Homo sapiens: one gene and its partner. The protein of the gene in region 2 purifies or fractionates together with the protein of the main gene of each other region. This does not show direct contact. Each region holds a gene or a part of one and is shown on either strand. Other genes may lie near its edges.

Region 1 (7,425 bases), on a different chromosome or scaffold from region 2:
CCAAGGCACGACCCACAAAAATGAAAGACAGACTACTGATATTTCGGTTCACGTTTGTTGCCAAATCTTGAAACGTGGGTCCCACTATAGCAACACTCAATCCCTAAAATTTAAAAAGACAAAAGTTTTTACTTATAATCATTAAAATAATGTCTAACTATGTGGTAGTTTCTTCCACTATAAAAAAAAAGGGGGGCGGAGGGTCTGGGATTTACAATGTAATGTAGGGAATTAGACTACTGTTTTTTTAGTTTTGACTAAAACTCTTATTTTTTTTTTGTTTTGACACCTCTCAGTTTTTAAAAAATTATTTTTTTGTTGCAATCCTGTTTCCTTTCTGAACAATACCTTTAAAAGACTATTCTGTATTAATAAAATGTAATATTAAAACTATTTTTGAAATGGTTTCGTACATTTTGAAATATATTACATGCACAAATAAGAATTTGGGTATTAAAAATTTAAATTGGCCGGGCACAGTAGCTCACGCCTGTAATCTCAGCACTTTGGGAGGCCGAAGCAGGCGGATCACGAGGTCAGGAGTTTGAGACCAGCGTGGCCAACACAGTGAAACCCCATCTCTACTAAAAATACAAAAATTAGCTGGGCATGGTGGTGGGCGCCTGTAGTCCCAGCTACTCGGGAGGCTGAGGCAGGAGAATCGCTTGAACACGGGATGCGGAGGTTGCAGTGAGCCGAGACTGCACCATTGCACTCCAGCCTGGGCGACAGAGCGAGACTCTGTCTCAGAAAGAATAAATTAATTAATTAAATTAAGTCAGGTGTGGTTGCTTACACCTGTAATCCCAGCAATCTGGAAGGGAGAGATGGTAGGACTGCTTGAGCTCAGGGTTTTGAGATCAACCTAGGCAACCCCATCTCTACAAAAATAAAAATGAAAAAAATCAGCCAGGCGTGGTGGCGCATGCCTGTAGTCCCAGTTACTAGGGAGGCTGAGATGGAAGGATCGCTTAAGCCCTGAGGTCGAGACTGTAGTGAGTTCTGACTGAGCCACTGGAAAACGTCAAAACCTTGATCAAAACATCAAAATATGATTCCTGTTTTTTATGTTGTTAAACAGCAATATTTCTGGATGCACATGGAGTCCTTCCCCTGAACTATACATATAAAACATACAGGAGATAAACAATTTAAATGTTTCTAAATCTACACTTTTCTTCCACGCCATCAGAATTAGTCAGTAAAGGTTGCTTAAAAAATATTACACGCCCAAGTACAGAATGACTTTAACAATAAAACTTTACTCAATGCAGTGTCAGCAAGAGGTAAGGATTACAATTGACTTTCAGAGGAAATTCATTGGACATTTAAAGAAAAAAATGTTTCCAATCAGTCTACATTTCCAGAATAACTGATTCTAATTGCCCTGCTCTGCTCTAAATGCATGGGGTGCGCCCCCTGCCCAACTCGTAACAGTCCAAGACCACGGACCACTATGGGCCCAGGTGCACAGCAAGCACCTCGTACTTCGAGAGAAGCCTGAGCACAGAATCTAATCAAATTAGTTCATGTCTTCAAAGGATTTACAACAGGACCGGACAAGTCAGTGACGACTCACCAAAAGTCTGAAGTGATTTCTTTCTTCACCCCTCCCCACCGCCCCCAATCAAAATACTCTAAGAAACAACTGTGGCTCAGAGTCCCTGAGATGGTAAGTGACCACACATGACTCTTGGGAGGACTCATCCTCTCAACTCCCCCAGGATCATAATTATCAAGTGATAAGGAGGAGGTTTCCGAAAAGTGAATTGAGTGGCGACCCAGGGGTTTGGCAAAAGGCGCCTCTAGGCTTGCCCTTTGCTCCAAGAAAAACATTTAAGAATCTAAAGGTTGGTTTTATTAATAAATAGGATGGTGGGCAGAGTAAAAGACATATTTCTGGCTCTATCACTTAACCAGCTGTGTGATCCAGAAAGTCACTTTCCCCTCCGGGCCTATTTCCTTATCTGCAAAATTAAGCGGTTGGCTGAATTTGGTCAGATCACCAGGAAGAAATTCCAGAAAAGTAGTTTTTCTGTGTAATAATTTGGGGGTTGAGTGGGTGGGTGCGGAGAGCAGCGGCCAAAGACCTGGTGAACCCCTCTTGCAACCTTCCCATCCGACGAAGGAGACGTAGGAAGGCTTGCCGGGCCGGGCGCCGTGGCTCACGCCGGTAATCCCAATACTTTGGGAGGCCGAGGTGGGCGGATCACCTGAGGTCAGGAGTTTGAAACCAGCCTGGCCAACATGGCGAAGCCCCGTCTCTACTAAAAATACAAAAATTAGCCGGGCTTAGTGGCAGGCGCCTGTAATCCCAGCTACTCGGGAGGCTGACGCAGGAGAATCGCTTGAACCCTGGGGGCAGAGGTTGCAGTGAGCCGAGATCGCACCACTGCACTCCAGCCTGGGCAACAGAGCGAGACTCCGTCAAAAAAAAAAAAAAAAAAAGCTTGCTGGAGCTGAAAGACGTATTCAGAAAATCTATTTCCTCCAAGATTAGAATTGTGCCCATTTTCTAGATGATGAAACTGAGGCCCAGTCAGATTAGGTAACGCGCCCAAGGTCAGTTTGCAAGTGGCGAAGGCAAGACTCGAACGCCCCGGCCTGGGAGTGTTGCAGCCCCGGCTCTCACCAGCCCCAGGAAGGAGGCACACAGCATCAAGGTGGTGAACCACCGCAGCTTGCTCCCGGTCCCACCGCTCTGCCAGGAGACCACCACCACCTCCGGCTCCGGCTCATTCTCCGCCGGGGCCTCCGCCTGCAGGAGCCGCTGCCCCGCAGCCGGGGGCCCGGCCCCACGGAGCTCCACCTCTAACTCCAGCTCGGCGGCTCCGGAGAAGTCGTCTTGCTGCCGCCGCGCTTCTCAGCAGAACTTCTGGAGCTCCGAGAAGAGCACTGGCCCCGACCCCAGGCACGGGTGTCCCTCCGGGCGCCACCTCCCAGCGGACCGCCCGGAACCGGGGCAGAGAAGAGGAACTTCGGCACGCCGCAGGTGTTCGTGGCAAAAGACGCTCGCTCTCCAGCAAGCAGGCGCATGCGCGGGTCACGTGGCGGAAATGTGGCCTCTCGCCAACCGCTATCGTGCCTCAAGCCGGAAGTTGATATGGTTGCCTAGGAGACCGGACGTAGCTCTCTAGCCTAGGCATCATACTTAGCTGAGCTCACAGAGGCTGGCGGACGTGCGCCCCATGGCGGAGCGAGCTGAAGTTGCAGCCTGGGACCAGGGAAATCAAGAGGTAAAAATGCGGCCAAACCATTATGAGGAAAAGGGGCCAAGAATTACACTGTAGCGCCTCGCGCCGGCTCCCCGGTCTCCTGGGGAGCGAAGGGAGCCTGAAGAGCTGGTCCTTATACAGCTTTCTGAAATCCCTGAGATCTGTCAATGAATCGCGCATCTTTCACTCCACAAGTATTTGTTGAACGTCATTGTGTAAGTTATCACGTATATTATCTCAACCCTCACAACACTCCAAATTCCACGTTATCCCCGTTGTACAGATAGAAAGATTAAGTCATAGAAAATAATTAACAATCTGCCCAAGCTCAGTCATCGAATTAGTGGCCGTATATAAACAGTGTAACAGTAGCTCAAGAAAGAAATCGGGATCCAAAGCTGTGGTTTCAAACACAATTCCTGAAATAATTCCAATTCCTGAAATAATTCCATCGTTGTAAAGAAGTGGAGCGTGGCATCGATTTGAGGAATTTTTTTTATATACTTTAAGTTTTAGGGTACATGTGCACAACGTGCAGGTTAGTTACATATGTATACATGTGCCATGTTGGTGTGCTGCACCCATTAACTCGTCATTTAACATTAGGTATATCTCCTAATGCTATCCCTCCCCCCTGATTTGAGGAATTGTTTTCCTTTTGCTCTTTAACAAAGCGTACCACAGCCTCAAAATGTTATATACTTTTCTTTGTGGTCTATTTGAAATGTTCTTTTCCACCTGATTCTTCCAACTTTCATCCACTTAGGCTCCCAGACTACAAACCTTAGTCTCATCATCCCTTGCAACCCGTCTCTCCAGACTTATTCGTTTAGTCATTAAGTCTTCCCCCCACCCGCACCCCCACTTTTTTTTTTGTTTGTTTGTTTTCTTTTTTGAGACAGAGCCTATGTCGCCCGGGCTGGAGTGTTGTGGCGCTTTTTGGTAGAGACGAGTTTTCACCATGTCGGCCAGGCTGGTCTCGAACTCCTGACCTCAAGTGATTCGCCTGCCTTTGGCCTTCCAAAGTGCTGAGATTACAGGTATGAGCCACCATGCCCCGCCAAGCATTTCTTTTTTATTTATTTATTTATTTATTTATTTATTTATTTATTTATTTATTTGAGACGGAATCTCGCTCTGTCGCCCAGGCTGGAGTGCAATGGTGCGATCTCGGCTCACTGCAACCTCTGCCTCCTAGGTTCAAGCGATTCTCCTGCGTCAGCCTCCTGAGTAGCCGGGATTACAGGCGCGTGCCACCACGCACGGCTAATTTTTTTATTTAGTAGAGACGGGGTTTCACCATGTTGGTCAGGCTGGTCTCGAACTCCTGACCTCATGATCCGACCGCCTCGGCCTCCCAAAGTGCTGGGATTACAGGCGTGGGCCACCGCGCCCGGCCCGCCAAGCATTTATTTTAGAGCAGGTCAGCTGGCATTCCTTCATATGAGAATGTCTTTATTTCACTTTGATTCCTGAAAATATTTTCACTGAAAATAGAGTTCTGGGCTAACCGTTATTTCCTTTCAGCACAGAAAGATGAGATTTCTATTCGAGTTTTAGCTACCCATGCCACCCAACAGTTCCCAGCTGGGGTCTCTCCTCAGGACAAACCACAAGAAAAGAAGAAAAAAGCCAGGAAATTCATCCCCTTGCAGGTTTCTAAGTTTTGACTCCCTACCTCAATTCTTTATTTACTTTTCAGAGGCGGCAGGTAGTTGCCATTTGTATTTTGTCATGAGTCTTTCAGTCGTAATCAGTGAGAGAGGGGCTGAAGTAGACTAATGACGCCAAACCAGGACTTTTCTACCTATCTTTGGAGAATCCATGTTAAAACAAACAAACAAACAAACAAACAAACAAAACCTACTTTGGTAGGTAGTCTTTTCTCACCTGCCTTTCAGCCTTGAGGCTGGTTTAGTTTCACAACTATATAGTTGTGCTGCTCCTAAATCTTGTCACAGGTTTTACCTCGTGTTACAGTTCTTTTAGCACTTATCTTCAGTTCCTTAGTAGATTATAAACTCAATGAGATTGAAACTATGGATGTTATATGTCTCTCCCCTAACATTGTATTACATACTTAGTAGCTATTACCTAACTGAATTGATTAATTACCTAACTGAATTGAGGTTCAGTAAAGCCATTTTTAAATTAAATATTTTAATTCACCCTGATTAAATGTAAAAAAAAAAAAAAGAAAAAGCCTTCTCTAAATGGAAAGATCTACTTTCTGATTCTTCATTCCCCACTTCACTCTTGAAAGCAGCAGTATATTTTTTCCAGTTGCCTCCAGAGGTCACCCACCACCTTTGAGAAAAAAAAAAAAAAAAAAAAAAGCATAAACTACAGCATTGCTTCATGCAGATTTCTCTTAGATCAATAGTGAGGATCAAGTTTTTTCTTGAGAGGCAATTTCAGAGAAATAAAGTGTCTATGAGCCACATTTTCTACTGAAAATAAATATAGCTTTATTGATTCTCTTAAAAAATAAGTATTTTACAATGTATATGGCTTAATTTATCTAAAAGGAAAATATCTGGATTTTAGTCACTAATCTGGTACTATCTGGGTGTATTTGTGAAATAGTAACAAGAAGGCAGGTTTTAATCTTTCAACTTAACTTTTTACTTTGGGTGAGAGAGAGAAATTAGACAGATCATGTTTGGAGACTGCATATCACTGTGAGGACCTATTTAATTTTTATTTGCCAGAAGGACCATCCTTTTTACTTATCATGTGATGTCCAATTTGTGCTTACAGTGCATCATGAAGAACTAAGTGTCACCATAACTGTTTCTTTCTGTATACTAAACTATCATTCTTTAACTTCACTGCTAAAAACCCAGTCTATTAAAACTATCTCTCACGAAGATTTAATTTCAGTTAGACAACTTTTATGGTTTATGCTATGTACTTTGAAAAGTTAGAAATAATGTTGAAATGATCTGACATTGGTGATGTTTGATAGAATAAATTATTTATCTTATTAAAAATTAAAACTTACTGATTTTTAAGTTTCCTTTTTTAAAAGGTATAAACTTAAAATTTTCTTCTTTCTTTCTTTATTCTTTCTTCCTTTCTTCTTTCTCTGTGGGGAAAAGCAAGAGAGATCAGATTGTTACTGTGTCTGTGTAGAAAGAAGTAGACATAGGAGACTCCATTTTGTTCTGTACTAAGAAAAATTCTTCTGCCTTGAGATTCTGTTAATCTATAACCTTACCCCCAACCCCGTGCTCTCTGAAACATGTGCTGTGTCAACTCAGAGTTAAATGGATTAAGGTCGGTGCAAGATGTGCTTTGTTAAACAGATGCTTGAAGGCAGCACGCTCCTTGAGAGTCATCACCACTCCCTAATCTCAAGTACCCAGGGACACAAAAACTGCGGAAGGCCGCAGGGACCTCTGCCTAGGAAAGCCAGGTATTGTCCAAGGTTTCTCCCCATGTGATAGTCTGAAATATGGCCTCGTGGGAAGGGAAAGACCCCAGCCCGACACCCGTAAAGGGTCTGTGCTGAGGAGGATTAGTATAAGAGGAAGGCATGCCTCTTGCAGTTGAGACAAGAGGAAGGCATCTGTCTCCTGCCTGTCCCTGGGCAATGGAATGTCTCGGTATAAAACCCGATTGTATGTTCCGTCTACTGAGATAGGGAAAAACCGCCTTAGGGCTGGAGGTGGGAACTGCGGGCAGCAATACTGCTTTGTAAAGCATTGAGATGTTTATGTGTATGCATATCTAAAAGCACAGCACTTAATCCTTTACATTGTCTACGATGCAAAGACCTTTGTTCACGTGTTTGTCTGCTGACCCTCTCCCGACAATTGTCTTGTGACCCTGACACATCCCCCTCTCGGAGAAACACCCACGAATGATCAATAAATACTAAGGGAACTCAGAGGCTGGCGGGATCCTCCATAATGCTGAACGCTGGTTCCCCGGGTCCCCTTATTTCTTTCTCTATACATTGTCTCTGTGTCTTTTTCTTTCTTAAGTCTCTCGTTCCACCTTACGAGAAACACCCACAGGTGTGGAGGGGCAACCCACCCCTACATTTCTCTCCCTCTCTCTTTTTTTTTTTTTTTTTTTTGACAGTCTTGATCAGTCACCCAGGCTGGAGTGCAGTGACATGATCATAGCTTACTGCAGCCTCGACCTCCGGGGCTCAATCAATCCTCCGGCCTCAGCCTCCCAGTAGCTGGGACTACAGGCATGT
Region 2 (6,682 bases):
GTATGGCCACCTGTCACTACCCTTCAGGTTTGGCGGCGGCCCTCTGGGGCAGGGAACTTTCTGAATATGTCTTAAGGCCCCTACTGGCCTTTTTAGTCAAGCCAGGACTGCATGCGGCCCACCTGGCTGTGTGGCCTTGGCAACGGACACTCTCAGGCCTTGGTACCTAAGTCGGAAGTCACTTTCTCCTTCCGCGCTAGAGAGGCCGGCCACCCCTCCTGCTCCAGGTGTGGAAGAGCACCTTACAACAGCTCCCTTAGAAGCCTGCCCAGCTGCCCGAGACCCAAGGCTGCAGAGTACTGGAAGGGCGGGGACACACGGGCCCCACATGTATGCTGCCTAGTCCAGGTGGGAGAAATGAAGCTCAGAGCGTGGGGCTCCAGGACGGCCCGGAAAGCTGAGTCAGGGCCCTGACTCAGGTTGAGGACTGAGGTTAGGACCACCATCACCTTGGCACACCTTAGCCCAGGCCTCTGCCCCTGGGAGAGAATACCCATCAGTTCTCGGTATTTTTTTTCTTTCTACATTTTATTATTTCAAACCAGGTGAACAATTCCATAAAACATGTGAAAAAAGCAAGGAAGTGTTCAACGCTGAAGGCCCCGGGCCTGGGACAAGGGCATGAGGGGCGTGGCCCCCCAGCAGGCAGCGGCGGTTCCTAGGTTAGCGCTAGGGAGCTACATTTTAGGTTAATAGAGCCTGGGGCCAGGGCCGCTGGGGCAGGGCCCTCAGTGACGTTGGCAGTTGTCTGGAACAGCCCTTGGAACCCAATTCTGTGGAGGGCAGGGCAGGGGTGCCGCTCGCACGGGGGCGGCCAGCAGAGGGACGGGTGTAAACACGCAGACACACTCAAGGCACGGAGTCACTTGGAAGGGGGGCTGGGGGGGGGCTTGCTGGTCAGGATCTGACAGTTTTAAATAGTTTTTCTCTAAAAAGTTTTCTAGATTTGCAGTTTTTTTTTTTTCCTTTACTTTCATTTTTTTAAAAAGCTACGAGAATGAGCAGGTGGACTGTGGTTTCCAGGAATGGTGGCGTCTCACGCTTCTTGTGCTTTTTCCTTTGGGGCCTCCGAGCGGCTGGGGTTGGGGGACTGGGCAGGAGGCTCCCTGTAAACATTTGGACTTGGGCTGGGGCAGGGGCTGGTGTTGGGCAAAGCTGGGGGTCCAGGCTGGAGAAGCAGGGGCCCCTCCAGACGCAGCCTTGGGAGACTCAGCATGTGCCCCCCTCCCCTCATCACAGAACAAGACAATGGTTAAAAACCAGAACAGATGCCCAGAAGGGGGTACCATGGCCATTACCAGCATCTCAGACAAGGGCAGGCTTCAAACAGGGAGGCCTGTGGCAACCCCTCCCCTACGTCTGGAGCTGAGGGGACAGGGGGAGCTGAGAACAAAGAGAGGAAAGAGGAGAAAAGCGGCGGGGGAACAGGCGGGGAGCGTGATCTTCTTGCCCCCATCTTCCTCAGGGGTTGGGGGGTACAAAGTCGGCGGTGGCCCTGGAGGTGGGGGAAAGCAGAGCATGGATCGGGAAGCAGCCAGGGCGTGCCTCTCTCCCGCCTCCCTAGACAATGACCCTTCTCTATTTTTCCTACCCATTTGTTACCAGGGACACAGTTGCCGCCCAGGAGCCAGTTTCTGTTGCTGGGTTACGTGGGGGAGGGGAGTCTGTGGCACTGGGAGAGTCATCCCCACCTCCACCAGGGCCAGTGGGGCCAGCCTAAGCCCGGGACGCTCAGACAAGTCAGAGGGCAAGAGCTGGAGGTGCACATGGAGCTGGTGGTAGTGGGCAGCAGGGCTGGGCTCCGCTGGCATGCAGCTTCCGGCAGGCTGGGCCAATGGCCTGGTGGGTGAGGAGGTGAGATTTCTCCAGGGAACATCAGGATGGCCTCTGGTTCTGTCCCAGGGCAAGGCCAGGCCCTTCTGTCTGGACCACTGGGCCAGGCCTGCTTGTATGACCTCCTCCATGCCCTGCACCTCACTCACTTGACCTCCTGATTCACACCCTGGGCCTTCTCCTCCCTTGTCCCCTGGTCACCTATTGCCCCTCCCCCTCCAGGTTCACCCCCCTACCCACCCCCAGAACCCCCTGCTGGGGCTCCAGGCCCGCTTAGTTCTTCCCCAGCACCCTGCCACAGCCCCTCTGGCTCACCATCCCGCCAGGCCCCGCTGCCCCTCAGAAGAGGCCGCAGTCCTTCAGGTTGTTCTTGATGATGACATCGGTGACGGCGTCAAACACGAACTGCACGTTCTTGGTGTCGGTGGCGCACGTGAAGTGCGTGTAGATCTCCTTGGTGTCTTTGCGCTTATTCAGGTCCTCAAACTTACTCTGGATGTAGCTGGCTGCCTCATCATATTTGTTGGCCCCTGGGGGAGAGAAAATGAAGACTTGTGCTGCATGTGTGGCAGGCAGGCCGCATCCTACGTGTGCAGCAAGGGTCTGTGCGTGTGGACGGCCAGGCATACAACCTGTGCATGCATGTGCATAATATGACAATGTTTGTGGCTGCCCATACATGCCAGATGTGCAAAGGGGTACCCCACTGTGTGAAGGAGGATGCCCATGTACACATGTTCAGGGGTACATGCTTGAGTGTGTTAAGGGCTTCATGTGTGCACACACAACTATACAAGCCTAAGTGAGGCACCAGCCCCTGCCAGTGTTCCAAGGTTACACTTCTGTCCAGTGGGGGGCGCCTGAGGGCCACCTGGTCACCATAGGCTACTTGGGACAAGAAGCAACCCTCTGGAGGCCCTATCCCCACAGTCCCCACACCTGTGTACTCAGGGAAGCAGATGGTCAGGGGACTGTGTGTGATCTTCTCCTCAAACAGGTCCTTCTTGTTGAGGAAGAGGATGATGGACGTGTCTGTGAACCACTTGTTGTTGCAGATGCTATCGAATAGCTTCATGCTCTCATGCATGCGGTTCTGGGGGTAGAATAGCAAGGTCAACGCTAGCCACCACTCCCCAAGCCCGCTGCCCCCACCCGCAGCATTCTCTCATCCTCTCACCATCTCCTCGTCCTCAGCTAGCACCAAGTCATAGGCGCTCAAGGCTACGCAGAAGATGATGGCTGTGACGCCCTCAAAGCAGTGGATCCACTTCTTCCGCTCAGACCGCTGACCACCCACATCAAACATCCTGCAGATATAGATCACCTTAGTTCCAGGAAGGGAGCCTGGGGGAGGCTTTCTACCCCATTTCTCAGGTTGGCTGACTGAGGACAGAGGCCTGCCCAGAGTAGGGCAGCTACCTTCTGGAATCATCCACACTTGCCCACTTCACCCCTGGTTCTGGGCCAGGAGCTTGGACAGCAGGCAGGCTGCAGCCACATCAGGCAGGAGCAGCAGAGGCTGTGAGCAGCTGGCAGAGGTGGCGTGGATCCTGACTGCTGGTTCACTAGGTGGTGAGGATGTGCTTGCCCAGAACACATGAGCCTTGTAAAACCTCAGTGGGGCTGGGGGATCCTGGACCAGCCCCTGCCTCTGCTACCCCAGAGGCTGGCAGGTCCTGCCCCTCCCACCTGTCCACATGCTCGCTCACTTGAAGTGTAGGTCCTTGAAGGTGAAGTGTGTCTCCACGATCCCCGTGGTCTTTACGCGGGTCCGTAGCACATCTTGCTGTGTGGGGATGTAGTCACTCTGTGCAATACGCTCCAGGTCGTTCAGGTAGCTGGGGATGGGGGGTGGGAGGGTCAGTGGGGGCCAGCATGGGGCTTCCTTAGCTGGACCCTGGGCCAGCTGCAAGAGGCCCCTTCCCTCCCATGCCATTTCTCAAGCACAGCCCTTGCTTTTTTTTTTTTTTTTTTTTTTTTTTTTTGAGACAGAGTGTTACTCTGTTGCCAGGCTGGAGTGCAGTGGCATGATCTTGGCTCACTGCAACCTCTGCCTGCCAGGTTCAAGCGATTCTCCTGCCTCAGCCTCCTGAGTAGCTGGGACTACAGGCGCCTGCCGCCCAGCTAATTTTTGTATTTTTAGTAGAGACGGGGTTTCACCATGTTGGCCAGGATGGTCTTGACCTCTCAACCTCAGGTGATCCGCCCACCTCGGCCTCCCAGAGTGCTGGGATTACAGGCGTGAGCCACTGCGCCTGGCCTAGGCACAGCCCTTGTTTCTTTAACCCCTGCCTGCATTACCTCATTGCTCAAATGAAGAAACCTGAACTCAGAGCCCCCGGCCTCCCACCTGTAGAATGGGAATGGGAGGAGGTGCAGCTCTGTGGACAGCTAGCCAGCCAAGCTCCAGCACCCAGGGTCTGAGCCAGACCTGCCTCGGACAGGATCCAGGATGTTGGAGCTATAGGCAAAGAGGGTGGGAGGAGGCAAATTAGTCCTTCGGTGAAGGATTCAGGATGCTAATGGGCGCAATTACGGCATTAGCCGCAGAGCAGCCGGGTGCGGTCCCTCGATGTGGTGCTGGACAGGTTGGGGCCTGCCAGGTCCAGTGGGCTCTTTGCCCAGCGCCCAATGAAATCTGGGTTCCTCAGGGGGAGGGCACAGACACCTGCTTGGCAGGGGTCCCAGGGGCTCCTCATTACCAGTTCCCTTAATTAGTATCAAGGCTACCCCTGCAGGGCCTGCCTCTGCTGCCTGCCTCAATATCCCTGCCATGCCCTGGAGGCTGGTCCCAGGCCTCCAGGCTGCTGCCCAGAGCTGACTTTTCATTCCTGGGGCAAGGCTGCTGGGGCTGGCCCTTGGCTCCCACCAGCACCCAGGCCAAACCAGGCCAGAGGGAAATGATCTCAGAGTAGCAGGGACAAAACAGAAAAACAGGAAGGGCCATGGGGAAGGATGACGCATGTGCTGTGACCCGCATACCATGCCCCGCCCCCTACTGCCAGAGTCCTCAATGTGGAGGTACCATGGTGCATTCCACACCAGCCTCTCCCTTTTCCCCAACAGGTGGGTTCGCCCCAGGGACCCCCTGACTCGCTGCACACTTGGAGGGTTGCTGCGAAGAGGGGCTGAAGGAGCCCTGCTTCCTGTGGTGTTCCAATCCGCAACCCATTCCCAGGGGGAGCTATCAAGGCTTAAACCTGACTGGGAGAACAGGGCCTGTATTCACTCCCAAAACTGTGCTGGGCACACAGTGGGTGCCTAATGTCTGGAGAATAGAGAAAGAGGATGATGGAGAAGCAGGAGGTGGCCTGGAGGTGGCTCTATTCCTGCTTCCTTTGAGTATCATGGGCACCAAGGTCCCTGCTGCTCTGACCCCAAGCTCGCTGGTGGCTGGGCCAGAGATCTCAGGGAGGGGCAGTGGTGAGGCCTGGGGGCCCCCACAGCATTTGGCTGTGACTCCACAGCTCCTGTAGGGGGTACATATTCACAAGAGCATTCAGGCCATGTAAGAAGGGTAGGAGGAGGCTGTTCATGTGGCTTGGACAGGGCTCAGGAATCACAGCCAGGCAAGACCCTCCTCCTCCTCCCACCCACCCTTGCTGAAATCCACCCTATGGGTAGGCTCAGGATTGGATGAACAATAGGAGCAAAAGGGTGTTCCAGTCAGAGGGGACTGGCTTAAGCAGAGATAGGGGAAGGCTAGAGTACAGGGACAGCAGCCTATCTGGTGACACCATCCAAAGCCTGTGGATGTCCCCTGCAGCCATCCTCAATGGCTATTAGCCTGTCTATCCTGTTCCCCGTGGGGTCCTCAGCACCCTGCACCAGTCCAAGTACATGACAGATACCACAGGGAAGGAGTTCAGAACTGTGGAAAGGGTGCAGGCTTGTCATGCCTCTGGGATTCCTGGGACCCCTTGTAATTCCTCAGCCTAGGGCCAGCGAGGGTCACAGCTGAGGTCCAGGGGCTCTGACCTACACACACACCTGTCACCTCCCAGATAACTTCCTCCCCTGTGGCCCCCTCCAGCCAGCCTCCACAGCCTATGTTCAAGCACAGCCAGCTCCCCACCACCCCGAGATGCTGCACATGCTATGCCCCTGCCTGGAATCCCCTCATCCACTCCTCCCCTGGCTGACTCTCCTTCAGAGCTCAGCAATCCTGTCTCTGGGCCAACTCCACCTCTACCTTTTCACTAACACCCTAAATTGTCACTGCATGGGGACTTTGCTCCACTCATCACTGTGTCCTTGAAGCCTGGCACAGAACAGGTGGCAGCAAATGTTCTGAGTCTTGCTCTGTCACCCAAGCTAGAGTGCAGTGGCGCAATCTCCGCTCACTGCAAGCTCCACCTCCCAGGTTCACGCCATTCTCCTGCCTCAGCCTCCTGAGTAGCTGGGACTACAGGCGCCCTCCACCACGCCCGGCTAATTTTTTGTATTTTTAGTAGAGACGGGGTTTCACCGTGTTAGCCAGGATGGTCTCGATCTCCTGATCTCACGACCCGCCTGTCTCAGCCTCCCAAAGTGCTGGGATTACAGGCGTGAGCCACCACGCCCGGCCGCAAATGTTCTTTAGAAGACTGTCAAGACAGATCAGACTCAACTGGCCTGGAAGAGATGTACTGTATAAGCCACCTGCCTGTCATTCCTCCTGGCCTTTCAGTAACGTGACACCCACCCACCCCCCAAACCAAAAAACAGGAAGGCCTTGGTTAACAGTCATCGGTTTCATAAGCAAAGACCAGCAGTGTCCTTCTGGGGGTTCTCAGGCCCTCCGGTCCAGCCTTTAGTCCTCCCCCAGCCCCTGCCCTGCCCTGCCCAGCCCCTCAGAGCACTCACTAGG

Evidence for each region. The genes of interacting proteins can lie anywhere in the genome.
Region 1: the proteins of GNAI2 (region 2) and SLC60A2 purify together in Homo sapiens (affinity purification with mass spectrometry; 3 studies listed by BioGRID and IntAct, with this or other methods). This does not show direct contact.

What each region holds. Positions count from the first base shown.
Region 1 is NC_000006.12:111,254,935-111,262,359, reverse strand, and holds the start of SLC60A2 (sodium-dependent glucose transporter 1), read right to left. Parts: upstream 3,022-7,425; 5' UTR 2,660-3,021; coding exon 2,633-2,659; intron 104-2,632; coding exon 1-103. UniProt on the Homo sapiens protein: May function as a sodium-dependent glucose transporter. Potential channels for urea in the inner medulla of kidney.
Region 2 is NC_000003.12:50,253,181-50,259,862, reverse strand, and holds the end of GNAI2 (guanine nucleotide-binding protein G(i) subunit alpha-2), read right to left. Parts: coding exon 6,679-6,682; intron 3,672-6,678; coding exon 3,543-3,671; intron 3,141-3,542; coding exon 3,011-3,140; intron 2,927-3,010; coding exon 2,773-2,926; intron 2,364-2,772; coding exon 2,173-2,363; 3' UTR 2,149-2,172; intron 1,496-2,148; 3' UTR 501-1,495; downstream 1-500. UniProt on the Homo sapiens protein: Guanine nucleotide-binding proteins (G proteins) are involved as modulators or transducers in various transmembrane signaling systems.